Regions from separate parts of the Homo sapiens genome. Here regions 2 and 3 are each reported to be linked to region 1. Evidence: microRNA targets listed by miRTarBase, many of them from high-throughput screens and not tested one by one. Region 1 holds a microRNA gene; each other region holds the end of a gene's coding sequence. Distances are from middle to middle.

Region 1 (5,074 bases):
CACATCACTTTTCCTTGTTCTCTTCATGATTTCATCTATTCTCTAAAAACAAAAAACAAAAAACAAAATCAAGTAAGAGGACAATAAGACCAAAAACATAAAAGTAGCTTGGTTTACATGCAATGTCACATTTCTCAGAAAACTTGTAAAAGGCAAAAGTCAGAAGAGGATAACAAGTATAGAAAGGTTTTCCACTAGTTTTGGAGATGTACACCTCCGGCCCCATGGACAAGGTCAAATGCTTGAGAAGTTAACTAGTACGTATCTAGAATCAATATTCGATTTATATCCCATATTTCTCCTTCTTCTCCTTAGGCTCTGTATAAATCAACAAATTACCACCTGCCATTAAAGAGCACCACCCTACAGAAAGTGAGGCTGAGGCTGAGGTGCATCTCAGGAGAGAAGGCCACAGGCTGGTCTCCTGGATCCCAGGCCTACAGCAATACAAAGCCCAGGTTGGGCCTAGGACACCATGAGAATACTCCTTTATAATCAGTCTGCTTAAACCCAATTTTACCCATAAGTATAGTTAGTGTAAATGGACTAAACACTCCAATTAAAAGACAAAGACTGTCAAACAGAATTAAAATAACAATTCCTGGCTATATGCTCTTTACTTATAAAAACACACAGAAGAAGTTTTAAGTAGAAGGGTGAAAAAGATTTGACATACAGACACTAATCATAAAAGGGCTGTCAGGCCAAGCACAGTGGCTCACGTCTATAATCCCAGCACTTTGGAAGGCCGAGGCAGGAGGATCCCTTGAGTCCAGGAGTTCGAGACCAGCCTGGCCAACATGGTGAAATCCCATCTCTACTAAAAATACAAAAATTAGCCAGGTGTGGTGGTGTGCGCCTGTAATCCCAGCTAGTTGGGAGGCTGAGGCAGGAGAATCGCTTGAACCTGGGAGGTGGAGGTTGTGGTGAGCCGAGATCACACCACTGCACTCCAGCATGGGCAATAGAGTGAGACTGTCTCAAAAAAATAAAAGGCAGGGGGCTGTCAAAGTAGACTTTAAGACAAGAAATATCACTAGAGACAAAGGCATATCACGATAAATATATATAAAACAAAACCTGACAGAACTGAAAGGAAAAATGGACAAATCCATAATCACAGATGGAGTTATTCTTTTTTCTATTATTTGGGACAGGGTCTCACTCCTGTTCCCCAGGCTGGACTGCAGTGGCATGATCTCGGCTCACTGCAGGCTTAACTTCCCGAGTTCAGGTCATCTTCCCACCTCAACCTCCTACGTAGCTGGGACTACAGACACATGCCATCACACCCAGCTATTTTTTGTATTTTTAGTAGAGACAGGGTTTCACTGTATTACTCAAGCTGGTCTGGAACTTCTGGGCTCAAGTGATCCTCCCGCCTCTGCCTCCCTAAATGCTGGGATTACAGGTGTGAGCCACCATGCCTCGCTACAGATGGAGTTTTTAACAATCTTTCTCAATCACTGATGGAACGAGATGGCAAAAAACTAATAAAGACATAAAAGATTTGAACAGTGGTATCAATGAACTTGACCTAACTGACAATCCTAGGATCATTCTATCCAATCACTGCAGAAGAGAACTGGATTTACTTCCTGTTCACTTACCCTAGGTCTTCCTGACCCTCAGCCCTTACCTTCTTTCTCTCCAGTCTCTCCTGCTCAATCTGCAGCATAATCTGTTCTCTCTCGAGACGCATCTGTTCAGCTACCTCCCGGGCCTTTGTTTCTGCTGCTTCTTTCTAACAGAAACAGGTAAATCAAGGCAAAGCTTTAATAAGCTAAGAAAACAGTGTGGTAATTCCCTGGCTTTGCACATGTTCCTTCATCTCATCATCTGCCCTAAAGTGGATGCTGCTCCAATATTCAATGTGGATTTATACAAACCACTGCATGACACAGCAAACATGGTTGGACCTCATTCATATACCCCTGGCTCACCATGCAAATCACCTGCAGACAGTTCTCACACATGGCCAAGGCTTTTCTGTGTCTGTGGGCAGGCTTGGGCCATGAAGTGTGCATGTGGCCAGATCAGAGAGTTAATTCCCCAGGGAGTGACCTTCTACTACCGTGAAGGGCAGGATGTGGTAGATAAGTAGTTCAGTTTCCTCATCCCTCAGCTGGACAATTCTAAAGCATGATCCACAGTCTGTCAGAGGTTCCCAATGGGACTGTGTTCCAGTCACCCACAGTAACACATGCATCAATGCACTTACATTGGCTTTTCTCCTATTCCTCTACCAGCTTCCTGGGATTCGCTTGCAAAAAAAACTGCTGGCACTCAAATTCTTAGCCCAGGGTTTGCCTTTGGGGAAACCCTAACTCACAGATGGCAAACATTACCAACTTCACTGCAACTGCCCCAACTTATATTTAATAACCAGCCCAGACAGTTTAAGAAGAAACTTCAAGTAAACATTATGAGTCATTGAAATTTAACTAATTGTACCTACTATCAAGGTCCTTAAAAAACAAGTAAAGTCCATCTGAGGACTCATACAGTACCTGCTTTTCAATCATGGCTTTCTCTTGTTTTTCTTGTTCTTGCTTTTCTTTCAACAACAGCTCCTCCTCAGCCTTCCGCTTGGCCTCCTCGCCTGCCTTTCTTTTCTCTTCCCCTTCCTGTTTTTTCTTTTCCTCTTCCTGCCGCTTCCTTTCTTCTTCCTGCTTTCGGGCTTCCTCTTCTAGGCGAAGCCTTTCCTCCTCTGCCTTTCTTTTCAATTCCTCTCTCTCCAGCCTTTTGAGAATACAACTGTTGTTAGAAGATGACATGCTCGAAAAGCAAACTGCCAGAGAACTGTGTGCTGACAGCCGAGAATAATGCTCCACATGGTAACACACACACATACCTTTCAACGAGCATTCATTTAATAACATGATTCATCCTTCCTGGAAATCCACTCTGGTCCATATATTTACCAAAAAGTATTAACCAGGCTTGACTTTAAATTCTGTAATACAGCAATGAATGATGTGTTGATGTGTAACGCATACTGTATTGAAAACAGATGCTCCTCAGTCAATGAACAAATGACCACGGTGACAGAAAGCCAAGCCATCATTCTTATTGAATGACAATTCTTTTAAAACCTAAGCAGAATATTTAAAACCAATGAAAGCTAGGAAAAATGGGAAGTGTCTCAATGGCCACAAATGTGCCAGTCAGCAATTTAAGAGCAGTGACTACGAACTCAAAAAGTCATACCAATTTGGTTCTAATTGGTATGTGACTTATGAAGCAGCAAATGGAAGAAAATGCTCAACAGAAACTTGACATTTAATAAATTAAAACCTCTATTTCCATTTATTTTGGCAATCTTTAGAAATCTATTTTAGCTTTCTTTGCTATATGAAAATTAAGTGGCATTTAGACATTTTCATCCACAGTCAGATGAATGGTTCATGGTGTAATGGTAAAGAGCTCGAAGCAGTAAGGGAAAATCCTGTAAAGTCCAAGAGCTTGTTTTAACCTTTCTAATGTTCCTCCTCCTCACATGTACGTCACTTTCCTTGGGTAATCACTGGCAATGTGATGTATGGGCATGACTCAAATTGTACTCTGATTATGCCACTCACTGTGTGACACCTGGAAAGTCACTCAATGTTCTTGATGCCCATTTAAAAAATGGGAAAAGCTATACTATTGTTCTATGGCTTTACTGTGAGAATGAAAATGCCTGGCCCTAGAAGGTTCTCAAACGTTAGTTTGTTTTACAATTTAAAATGAATCCTCTCTCCAAGCCCCAATGTCCTTTAAAGTGCACCTATAAATCTGTATGTCCTTTAGAAATTACCTTCATTTGGAAGCATGTGCCAATGACTTACTGGGATGCTGTTGTTATAAAAAGGTCAAGACTTAAAAAGAGCATCCATCCATCCTAATGGTCAGCTTCAGAACTTGTGCAGGCTAACAGCCTATGTATGACCAAAGGAAATATTTTGTTTATTCATTCAAAGAAATATTTTAAAAGAAAGATAAACAAATACTTAAATATATTAGCCTGAGACTGTAACAATACGTGATAACACTAAATTAGGTCACAATGCCTATAAACCATTGTGAAACAACTCAAATTATTAACAGATATTCTGGAGAGGAGCATTATAGAACCTATCAGAAAGAAGCTCCCATTTTCTTAGATTCCTCAATGAAATACTATGTCCAACACAGGATTATCCAAAATGGATGTGTTAATAACAAGATGTATCTAAAGGTTAACTGAAGTACCATTTCATTTCTTACCCTTTATTAACGAGCCAATTATGATTGTCCCAGAGAAGTTAACACACAAAGGATACATTGTGTATTAATTAATGTATAAGCTACTTCATAAAGGACCTGCCGTCTTCATCTCCAGGACCTGAAAATCCATTCTCTTTTTTTTTTTTTTTTTTTTGATGGCGTTTCACTGTTGTTGCCCAGGTTGGAGTGCAATGGTGCAACCTTGGCTCACCACAACCTCTGCCTCCCAGGTGCAAGTGATTCTCCTGCCTCAGCCTCCCAACTAGCTGGGATTACAGGTATGCGCCACCATGTCTGGCTAATTTTGTATTTTTAGTAGAGACGGGGTTTCACCATGTTGGTCAGGCTGGTCTCAAACTCCTGACCTCAGGTGATCTGCCTGCCTCGGCCTCCCAAAGTGCTAGGATTATAGGCATGAGCCGCTGCACTTGGCCTCTGTTTCTTGTTTTTTACCATCAGGACTTCAGAAGTGCCCAGATGCACACATGTAAGAACATCCTTATGGCCCCTGAACCTCCATAATCCTCATTATCACCCAAAATATAAATCCCCACAAGCCCATGAGACCCCGCTTGTCCTTTCCATAGCACCTCCAGGGAAATCTTGTCCTTTTTTTTTTTTTTTTTTTTGAGATGGAGTCTCACTCTGTTGCCCAGGCTGGAGTACAGTGGTGTGATCTTGGCTCACTACAACCTCTGCCTCCTGGGTTCAAGTGATTCTTGTGCCTCAGCCTCCCAAGTAGCCGGGACTACAGGCATGCGCCGCTATGCCCAGCTAATTTTTGTAGTTTTAGTAGAGATGGGGTTTCACCATGTTGGCCAGGCTG
Region 2 (5,074 bases), 99 Mb from region 1:
AACTTTTACTGGGTGCATCTATTAAGTCATCAATCAATTCATTTCACATGAAATCGTGGATTGGCAAACACAAATAACATTACCTTATCTGAAATTTTAGAAACTAAGTAGATACAATATGTTTCCCTCTGGTCTCAGTTCAAAGATGTAAGACAATCCAGTAATAACCACCTGAAGATTGGCAGTTACAGCCATAGGTATTACCTCCCAGGCCTTCCCATGCCCAGGGCCCTGTGGCCATAGCCAAGTTGATTTTACCCCTTTGACATACTACCCATGGCATCACACAGGTCCTAACTTTTAGAAGTCTGGCACCAAAGGGAGAAGAGTTTAGAAAGCACTAGAGCAGGGGGATCAGAGGAAACCTGAAAGGAGGAAACATTATATGGCATTCCATAAACAACATACCCCAATATCGCTGGGGTTCCTTATTGCTTGTGTGTTATTTGCTGTGGTTCCAGTTGGATTTGAAGCTCAGAAGATACTGCAAGTTCCTGCCATGGAAAAAGAAACCAAACGATCTTCAACTCTCCCAGCCAAGTTCCAGAACCCAGTTGAGCCAATTGAGCCTGTCTGGTTCTCACTGGCCAGGAAGAAAGCCAAAGCATGGAGCCACATGGCAGAAATCACGCAATAAAGAGCTCTTGTGTGGAGCATCAGCATTTATTTTATTTAGTTTTTTTTTTTTTTTTTTTTTTTGAGACAGAGTCTCGCTCTGTTACCCAGATTGGAGTGCAGTGGCGCGATCTCCGCTCACTGCAAGCTCCGCCTCCCGGGTTCACGCCACTCTCCCGCCTCAGTCTCCCGACTAGCTGGGACTACAGGCGCCCGCCATCACGCCCGGCTAATTTTGTTTTCGTATTTTTAGTAGAGACGGGGTTTCACCATGTTGGCCAGGATGGTCTTGATCTCCTGACCTCGTGATCCGCCCGCCTCAGCCTCCCAAAAGCTGGGATTACAGGCGTGAGCCACCGCGCCCGGCCAAGCATCAGCGTTTTAAATGATAATTGCTAATAGCTGTATTAATTCTATGTAGTGATCTTTTTACTGTGACCACTTGTATTAAGCAAAATAAGTATTAAGCAAACTAAGAATTTATTAAGCAAAATAAGAATTTATTAAGCAAAATAGCCTTAGAAATGCAAATTAAAACATAATTATTTGAATGAAATAAATGCCATGAATGCTTAACCTTCCACGTAGTCACTGCCAGCACCCAGAAACCCAGCATTTCCTCTATTAAAACTATCGAAAACATTTGCACTGCTGTAAAATTGCAAAATCTTTAACTTTGGACAATGTGCTTTAGAAGGGAGAAAGCAAAAACATTTTGTTGGAGCAACTAGAAAATTGTCATTTCCCTCAACCAAATAAAGTAATTCTAATGGAAACATTCAGATGATTTGACCTAAAGATTGGCCTTTAGGTTTTATGAGCCTAGATAGATGCCGCAATTATTTGGTTGTTGCTCTAAGCTTTGCAAGGGATCCTAAAAGAGGCGGTGGAAGTGAAAATTCTGGGTCTCCAAGAAAATTTCTGCACAGCCAGTTCTCCAATCAGCCTATCACCCCTTGAAACATCTTCCCTGTGTCCCTGGGGGCCCCTGATGCTTTCTCCTTGGGTGATAGTAACATGCAGAGCACTTACACAAAGCTCCCTCTTTGGACATACCCCACGTCGACCTGTCACAGGCCTGGCTGTAGCGAGCACCTCCCTATGACGCAGAATGCTTCTTGGGAATTATCTTACTCCTCTGGAGGGTTAGTCCATCAATGTTTTGCTTCTTGTCCCAATACTACTGTGACCCTCTCTGATCGCACAGAAATCACTGCCTATCACATATATCCTGTTAAGCACTGAAGACCCTATTGAAATTAGAGTTCTACAGATGCCAAAAGCTGTACTTTCCATCAGGCAGATGGCAAGCTTACTGCCTTGATGCACATCTGGAGCCACTGGAGCTCCTTCCTCTCTGGTTCCAGCATTAAGGTGGAGAACTCCATGTAGCTTCTTGTCCTTTCCCCTCAGCTGTCTTTGCTTCACAAGGTTTTAGCCCAAAGCAAGAGTGCAATCCCAAAGCCACAGAGAAATGAACTTTCCGCTACCTGGAAGCTTTAAGTGAGTAAATCAGCTTTTCCCCTCTCATTCCTAGAGGCACACACCTCAAAAGTTACTAGGCTGGAGAGACCCTACCTTCCAGTGACCCACTCATCCCCCAGCCACGGAGAAGAGGGAAGACCAAAAAGGGAGAGTGAGAAAGAGGATGAGAGGGATGGTCAGCTGTGAGGGGAGGGGGCAAGTGGCCCAGCAAATGTTGATGCCTCCCTTCCCATCTTGCCACACGGTCTTTTTCTTTTGTAGCACAGCCTCCATTAATAACTCCTCGGCTGAGGATGAAGATGTAGGCACCTTTACCCCCAGAGCCAGTTCCTTAATTGGCTGGCTTTCTGAGATGCAGACCACCCTAGAATCTCATCTAGGTTCACTAGAAGTTAGTTAAATCTTCCTTTCTCTGTCTTTCTCTTCATTCCATCCCCCAAACCCACCAAACACTAAGGGAGAGCTCCCTTTGGATGTCTGGGCAGTAAACCTAGCTCATTTTTCTAGGAGACCCAGAAGTGACTTCTGAGTAGTTATCACTGTGTCTGCCTCTGTTACACTGTGCTGCTTTGCTTAAACAGAAATGCAGGCCTGGACATCTGACTGTGCCTTTATATTCTGAGTGGGGTGCTGCCCCATGCAAAAAAATCCAGAGAGGTAGTGAGGTGTCAGAGCTAAACACTTGGTGCTGGGTTTTGTTGATGCTGGTATAATGTGACACAGTACAATTACATGCTAAATTTTGCATTTTCTCTATATAACATCTATTTTTCCTGATACTGTGCCTTTGCCATTTTGATAATGCTATTTTGATTGAGTGAATTTTATTTCCTTTGTATTCCCATAGTGAACAATATATTAAGGTAGATGCCCTTTATCTGGGTACTCCTGGTAGATTAGCTGTTACACCTCCCTTCCCTTTTTTACAGTGAACCTGTATTCAGTTATTGTCACTCTGAGAACTCTCCAATAACAATTTCTTTTCCACAGTTAACAACACAGCTGTTACACCTCCCTTCCTTTTTTTCACAGTGAACCTGTATTCAGCTATTCTCACTCTGAGAACTCTCCAATAACAATTTCTTTTCCACAGTTAACAACAAAGTTCTGTTTTTAAATGAAGAGATTAAGTTCTTTTTAAATGCCTAAAGGCATATTCTGACAACTTTTCTACTTCTTTAACTTTTTTGATTTAAGATATATGCAAAGCAAATAAATTCAATAAAGCCTATTCTGTAGTCCATCTCTGTCTGTGACATGGGGCGGGAAATCAAATAGGATATTGACAACTCAGAGCTGAAGGTTGTCAGAGAAGTAAAACGTTCTTTTTTTTTGAGACGGAGTCTCACTCTGTCGCCCAGGCTGGAGTGCAGTGGCGCGATCTCGGCTTACTGCAAGCTCCAACTCGCAGGTTCACGCCTTTCTCCTGCCTCAGCCTCCCGAGTAGCTGGGACTACAGGCGCCCGCCACCAAGCCCGGTTAATTTTTTTTGTAGTTTTAGTAGAGATGGGGTTTCACCGTGTTAGCCAGGATGGTCTCAATCTCCTGACCTTGTGATCTGCTCGTCTAACGGCCTCCCAAAGTGCTGGGATTACAGGCGTGAGCCACTGCGCCCGGCCAAAGTAAAATGTTCTTAAAAGGTGGTGCTGAGAATAAGGGGCGTCCACGCAGGTGTGCCTGACCAAGCTGATGGCTTTCAGGTGAGCATTGATATTTGGTATGGGGGAGAAGGGCCACTGAAGAGGTTTTACGTTTGGACACCTGGAGAATAAAGAGGGGGTGTGGTTGGGGGACGAGCAGAAGAGACAAGGTGATTGGTGGTTGCACTGTAGCCTGGGTCAGGGACAAAGTCCAAGTCCGATAGCAAGATGGGCTACTGCAACAAGCGCTTTTCAGAAGCAAGGGGCCCTACTGTGCTCAGGTAACAAAGTGGCATGGAGGGAGGAAGGGAAAGGGGTTATAGGCCAGATAATGAGCCTGGCTCACCTGTAACATTTTCAGGGTTTAGAACAAGAGTTCAACTTGGGATCCACATACCATATGTCTAAATATTTGAAATGTTTAAATAAACGAATACAGCATGTTTTATTTAATGGTTTATCTCCTTCCATGACAAATGTACCTTCATAATGACCTCAAAGGCCAGGTTGGGTTCTAGAATTCTCAGACTCCTGTAAGTCCTGCCCCAGTGGTGTGGGAAGAACTGCTCCCCTTCCTCCTCCTGCTTTAGAAATATTTCAGACCTACACAAAATTGTAGAAAATGTTACTATAAACATCAATATATCTACTATTCAGCTTAAGAAATGTAACATTACAAATATAGTTGATGCCTGCTGTGGAGCCTTCTCTGCTAGAATGCCCCTCCCTTTCTTTCCCTGAGAGGTAACCACCATCTCAAATGTGCTTCTTTCGAATGCACACCTTTCTGTATGCTACACTTGTATGCATCTCTTACAAGCACATCTTTTAGTCTCTCTATATGTACCCATAATCAATTTATGGTGATCATTTGTATGTTTTCTTAGAAGTCATATGCATGGTATCATGTTTGTATCCTTTTGGACCCGACTTTTTCCTTTATGCATTTTTCCTCTCTAGGCCTCAGCCCCTGTGAATTCTAGTCTCCTCCCCAGCCCATCCCTTGCTGTCCCTTTCAGTTTACCTGAAACAGCCCCGAGCCAGTGAATTAACCCTGGCTCGACAGGAGGTGCTCGGCTTCTTCCTCTGTTGCTTGAAACCACTGGTTCTCAAACCTTAGTGTTCATCAGAAGCCCCTGGGGGGCCTGTTAAAACACAGATTGCTGACCCCACCCCAGATTTTCGGATTCCGTAGGTCTTGGGTGGAGTCTGAGAATTCCCAGGTAATGCTGATGATGCTGTTTGGGGACCAAACTTTGAGAACCACTGCTCCAAATCAAAGTCTGGGCCCAAGCTCAGCAATACCATGTGGCTTCCAGGCAACCTGGGCCATC
Region 3 (5,074 bases), not on the chromosome of region 1:
ATCTTTCCAAAACTGACATCAATTTTTTAATTTAAGGTCTCAAATTATAATAATATATCTTGGCTAACTCATAATATTTATTGTTTCTGCCCTCTTAGGGGGTATTTGTTCTGCTTTATCCTTAATCTTTTTATTCTAAACTGCATTAAATACTATTCATCATGTTATAAACTGCCTGAAGTTTTCATAGGATATTTTTTGCTTTTTCCATCAATTTGGGCTATGCTTTTTATCTTGAAGGGGGATTAAAAAATGTTCTGTGACCTCAAAAGTGACCAGTAATAAAGCACAAAATAACTATTTAGGGGTGACATAGTGATTCTCAAGCCTTTCATCCTTTAATAATTGAAATTTAGCTGAAAGTGTAGATGTCAGCAGAGTATGTGAGGAACAGTAGATTATTTCTCACAATGGACATGACTCCATTTAAGCTTTTCATTCATAGTTTGCTAATGAATATGCACTACCATGGCCGTAAGTGTCACTTAAAACCATCTTTTTTTCTATTGTAGGTTGATGCTCACCTTAAGAGTGAGCAAACAGAAGCAAGCACCAGGCAAAATTCCCAAGTACTGCTATCAGAAACTGGAATTTATGATAATGACCCTGACCTTTGTTTCAGGATGCAGGAAGGGTCTGAAGTTTATTCTAATCCATGCCTGGAAGAAAACAAACCAGGCATTGTTTATGCTTCCCTGAACCATTCTGTCATTGGACCGAACTCAAGACTGGCAAGAAATGTAAAAGAAGCACCAACAGAATATGCATCCATATGTGTGAGGAGTTAAGTCTGTTTCTGACTCCAACAGGGACCATTGAATGATCAGCATGTTGACATCATTGTCTGGGCTCAACAGGATGTCAAATAATATTTCTCAATTTGAGAATTTTTACTTTAGAAATGTTCATGTTAGTGCTTGGGTCTTAAGGGTCCATAGGATAAATGATTAAAATTTCTCTCAGAAACTTATTTGGGAGCTTTTTATATTATAGCCTTGAATAACAAAATCTCTCCAAAACTGGTTGACATCATGAGTAGCAGAATAGTAGAACGTTTAAACTTAGCTACATTTTACCCAATATACAAACTCGATCTTGCCTTTGAAGCTATTGGAAAGACTTGTAGGGAAAAGAGGTTTGTGTTACCTGCATCAGTTCACTACACACTCTTGAAAACAAAATGTCCCAATTTGACTAACCAACCATAAATACAGTAATGATTGTATATTTCAAGTCAGTCTTCCAAAATAAGAAATTTTTGCTGTGTCAGTCTAAGAATGGTGTTTCTTAAATGCAAAGGAGAAATCATTTTAGGCTTGATGTAAGAAAATGAAAATAATAAATGGTGCAATAAAAATATAGAATATACCAATTGGATATAGGGTAGATGTTCCACATACCTGGCAAACAAATGCTTATATCTACTCTGTTAGATTGATAAGCAAATATAGGTATTAATGGAGCAGTCAACGTATAGCACATTTATGAGGAAAGTAGAGACTCACTGGGTCACATAGACTAATGGATAGGAATGTGACATAATGCTGCTGAATTAATATACTTATGGGCATCTGAATAGTTTAAAAGTTAGTCAGAATAGGTATCACTGGGCAAGTGAAGATAGCTTAAACTGCTTCATGCTTGACTTGATAGCAAGTTAAAGTGCAATTAATGGAATGGAGGAAAACCCAGAATATTTAATTGGTCTGTAGGGGTCAATTTGCTTTCATTCACCACATCTGCATCTTGCTGTTCTTCTTACTAAGGAATCAGGGCAAATCATCTGTAGTGACATATTTTAGTTTGCTAATCATTTATTTTAAAATACTGAGGTTGCAGCCACTTAAGAGTATAGCAAAAGATGGATTCAGATTTTTGGACTTTCCAAAGTACTTGAGTTAAACTATTTCAAAAATAGCCTATAATTTTATTCAACAGTTTGAGGCTATTCGAATTCTCAGGTGCTGCTACTGAATAATGTAATAGTCTTCATACAAAGTGGATAGCAAAGGTTAAAATCCATTTCAACAAATATGTGAGCTGAGCTGCTGCACAAAGGAATGTGATGTGTGTGTGTGTGTGTGTGTGTGTGTGTGTTAGGTGGGGTGGGTGACAACAGAAATGGTGCACGAGAAACTGATCAAATTGACATTATATTTTCAGTTTGCTTATGAAGCTCAAAATACTAGAGTAAATGGGTCATTAAAGAAAATAATATGTGAAATTATGGAGTTTAGAATACAAGTGGGGTATATATACAAAAAGACAAAACTGAGGTTTTGTGGTGGAGAGATTTTCTTAAGTAACACTGGCATTAAGTTTTAGCTCCTTAGATTTGGGGGTGCAAATATTCTTTTGAGTCACTGTTATTTTGCCAATTACACCTAGAATTTCAAGCAACCAATTCGAGATAGGCTGTTTTAGCCAGGCTGCATTTGTGGACAACTTATGTAAGAAAGACATGTTAGAATAGCTGCTTGTGGTATTCTTAAAAATAGAAACAGGAAATATGGGGAGGATACATTTAGCTGTCCTCTTATCAGATGAACACACGAAATTGAACAGTTCCTTCATGATTCTCTCAAACTTAAAAGCAAAATATTTCTGTCTTATTTAAAATATCCTTAGTATGTCTTATAGTAAAGATAATGCTGATAATGATTTCATCTCTAAGATGTATTAATATATTTGTACTGTTTGCCAAAATCACAAATCATTTATGTTTTTATTCCTTTTCAAAATGGTGTCAGAGACATACATGCATTTTCCCAAATGACTCTACTTCACTATTATTTACATGGCTTATTTCATTAGTTTATAGAGGGTTTGAGAAAAAGAATATGTAGATAATTTAATGGTTTTTCACAAATTTTAAGCTTGTGATTGTGCTCAATGAGAAGGTAAAGTTATTAAAACTTATTTGAAATCAATTTGGCATCTGATTTTGTACCCCAAAATGTGTGGACATGAATAGAATACTGATTCTTAAACCCCCTGACACATAAAAGCGACCCGAATAACTTGCTAAACTGCAGACTATTAACTTGCAGCACTAAGAAATTCTGATTCAGGAGGTCTAGAAAATGGCTCTTTAATCATCATCTTTAAAAGACATGCCAACCAATTTTAATATGTTTCCCAGTGTCCACAATTTGAGAAAACTAGTAGAGGCTAGGTTTGGTATATGTGGTTTATTTGATCAGTTTTGTGCACCAACCAAAACTATCTAGTCCCCAGAATGAATTCTCTGGCGCGATCATATCTATTTTGCTAAATATATAAACTTTTTTCAGAGCACTTTTAGGTTCAGCAAAGCTAAGCGGTGAGCATTGAGAGTTTCTATACCGTCTTCCCCCACACATGCACAGTTTCTCCCATCATCAACATCCTGTACTTCAGTGGTGCCTTTGTTACAATCAGTAACTAGAATTGACATGTCATTATCAACCAAAGTTCATGGGTTACATGAGGGTTCACACTTGCAGTTCTTTGGGTTTTGACATGTATAATGACTTGTATCCACCATTATAGTGATTTACAGAATAGTTTCACTGTCCTAAAAATCCTCTGTGCTCTACTCATTTATCACTCCCTCCAAGCCCCTGACAACCACTGCCTCTATTGCTTTGCCTTTTCCAGAGTGCCGTACAGTTGGCATCATGCCCCATGTAGCCTTTTCAGATTTGCTTCTTTCACTTAGTAATATGCATTTAAGTTTCCCCCATGTCTTATCATGGCTTGATAGTTCATTTCTTTTTAATGGTGAATAATATTCCACTGTCAGAATGTACCACAGTTTATCTGTTCATCTACTGAAGGACATTTTTGTTGCTTCCAAGTTTTGACAATTATGAATAAAACTGCTCTAAACATTTGTGTGCAGGGTTTTAGAAAAACTTCAATTTGAAATTCAGGGGTACATGGGCAGATTTGTTATACAGGTAAACCAGTGTCATGGAAAGTTTGTTGTATAGATTATTTTATCACCCAAGTATTAAGCCTATTAGTACCCATTAGTTATTTTATCTGATCTTCTCCCTCCTCCCACTCTCCACCCTCTAGTGGGCCTTAATGTCTGTTGTTCCCCTCTATATTTCCATGTGTTCTCATCATTTAGCTCCCACTTATTTTTTTTTTAATTTTTTATTTTTTTTTTTGAGACGGAGTCTCGCTCTGTCCCCCAGGCTGGAGTGCAGTGGCGTGATCTCGGCTCACTGCAAGCTCTGCCTCCCGGGTTCACGCCATTCTCCTGCCTCAGCCTCCCGAGTAGCTGGGACTACAGGCACCCGCCACCACGCTTGGCTAATTTTCTAATTTTTTTTTGTATTTTTTAGTAGAGACGGGGTTTCACCCTGTTAGCCAGGATGGTCTCGATCTCCTGACCTTGTGATCCGCCCACCTTGGCCTCCCAAAGTGCTGGGATTACAGGCTTGAGCCACTGCGCCCGGCCATTTAGCTCCCACTTATAAGTGAGAACATGCAATAGTCTTTAGTTTGCTAAGGGTAATGGCTTCTAGTTCCATCGATGTTCCTGAAAAGGACATGATCTCATTCTTTTTCATGGCTGCATAGTGTTTCATGGTGTATATGTACCACATTTTCTTTATCCAGTCTTCCATTAATGGACATTTGGTTGATTCCATGCTTTGCTATTGTGAGTAGTGCTACAGTGAACATAAGCATGTATTTGTCTTTAAAACAGAACAATTTATATTCCTTTGGATATATACCCAGTAATGGGATTGCTGGGTCAAATGGTAGTTCTGTTTTCAGCTCTTTGAGGAATTGCCACACTGCTTTCCACAATGGTTAAACTAATTTACACTCTCACCAACAGTGTATAAGTGTTCCCTTTTCTTCGCAACCTCACCAGTGTCTTATTTTTTGACTTTTTAATAGTAGCCATTCTGACAGGTGTGAGACAGCATTGTTATGGTTATGACTCACATTTCAATTTTCAACTCCTTTGGGTAAATACCAAGGAGGATGATGGCTGGATTGTATGGTAAGAGTATGTTGAGTTTTGTAAGAAATTGTCAAAATATCTTCCAAAGTAACTGTACCATTTTGTATT

The links. Region 1 holds the annotated microRNA hsa-miR-23c (AUCACAUUGCCAGUGAUUACCC, at 3,518-3,539, opposite strand). A microRNA usually pairs through its seed, bases 2 to 8, with sites in the 3' UTR of a target mRNA and lowers its output. Matches are read on the target gene's strand: a 7mer-m8 pairs with bases 2 to 8, a 7mer-A1 pairs with bases 2 to 7 and ends in A, and an 8mer does both.
Region 2: the mRNA of KIAA1210 is a reported target of hsa-miR-23c. Seed matches in the 3' UTR shown: 7mer-m8 at 2,812-2,818.
Region 3: miRTarBase lists BTLA as a target of hsa-miR-23c. Seed matches in the 3' UTR shown: 7mer-m8 at 1,531-1,537, 7mer-m8 at 2,060-2,066 and 7mer-A1 at 2,217-2,223.

What each region holds. Positions count from the first base shown.
Region 1 is chrX:20,013,584-20,018,657 of GRCh38, forward strand. It overlaps MIR23C (microRNA 23c), which reads right to left and starts at 3,604; the gene lies at 3,505-3,604. MAP7D2 (MAP7 domain containing 2) reads right to left here. Exons shown (of 17, transcript NM_001168465.2): 11 at 2,511-2,742; 12 at 1,640-1,744; 13 at 1-42.
Region 2 is chrX:119,076,892-119,081,965 of GRCh38, reverse strand. It overlaps KIAA1210, which reads left to right. Exons shown (of 12, transcript NM_001394962.1): 12 at 462-3,331. The coding sequence ends at 637. Among named protein-coding and RNA genes, the nearest start is that of CT47C1, 6.4 kb to the right of the region's middle.
Region 3 is chr3:112,461,822-112,466,895 of GRCh38, reverse strand. It overlaps BTLA (B and T lymphocyte associated), which reads left to right. Exons shown (of 5, transcript NM_181780.4): 5 at 513-2,930. The coding sequence ends at 788. Among named protein-coding and RNA genes, the nearest start is that of BTLA, 35 kb to the left of the region's middle. RefSeq lists enhancers at 289-804, 3,242-3,381.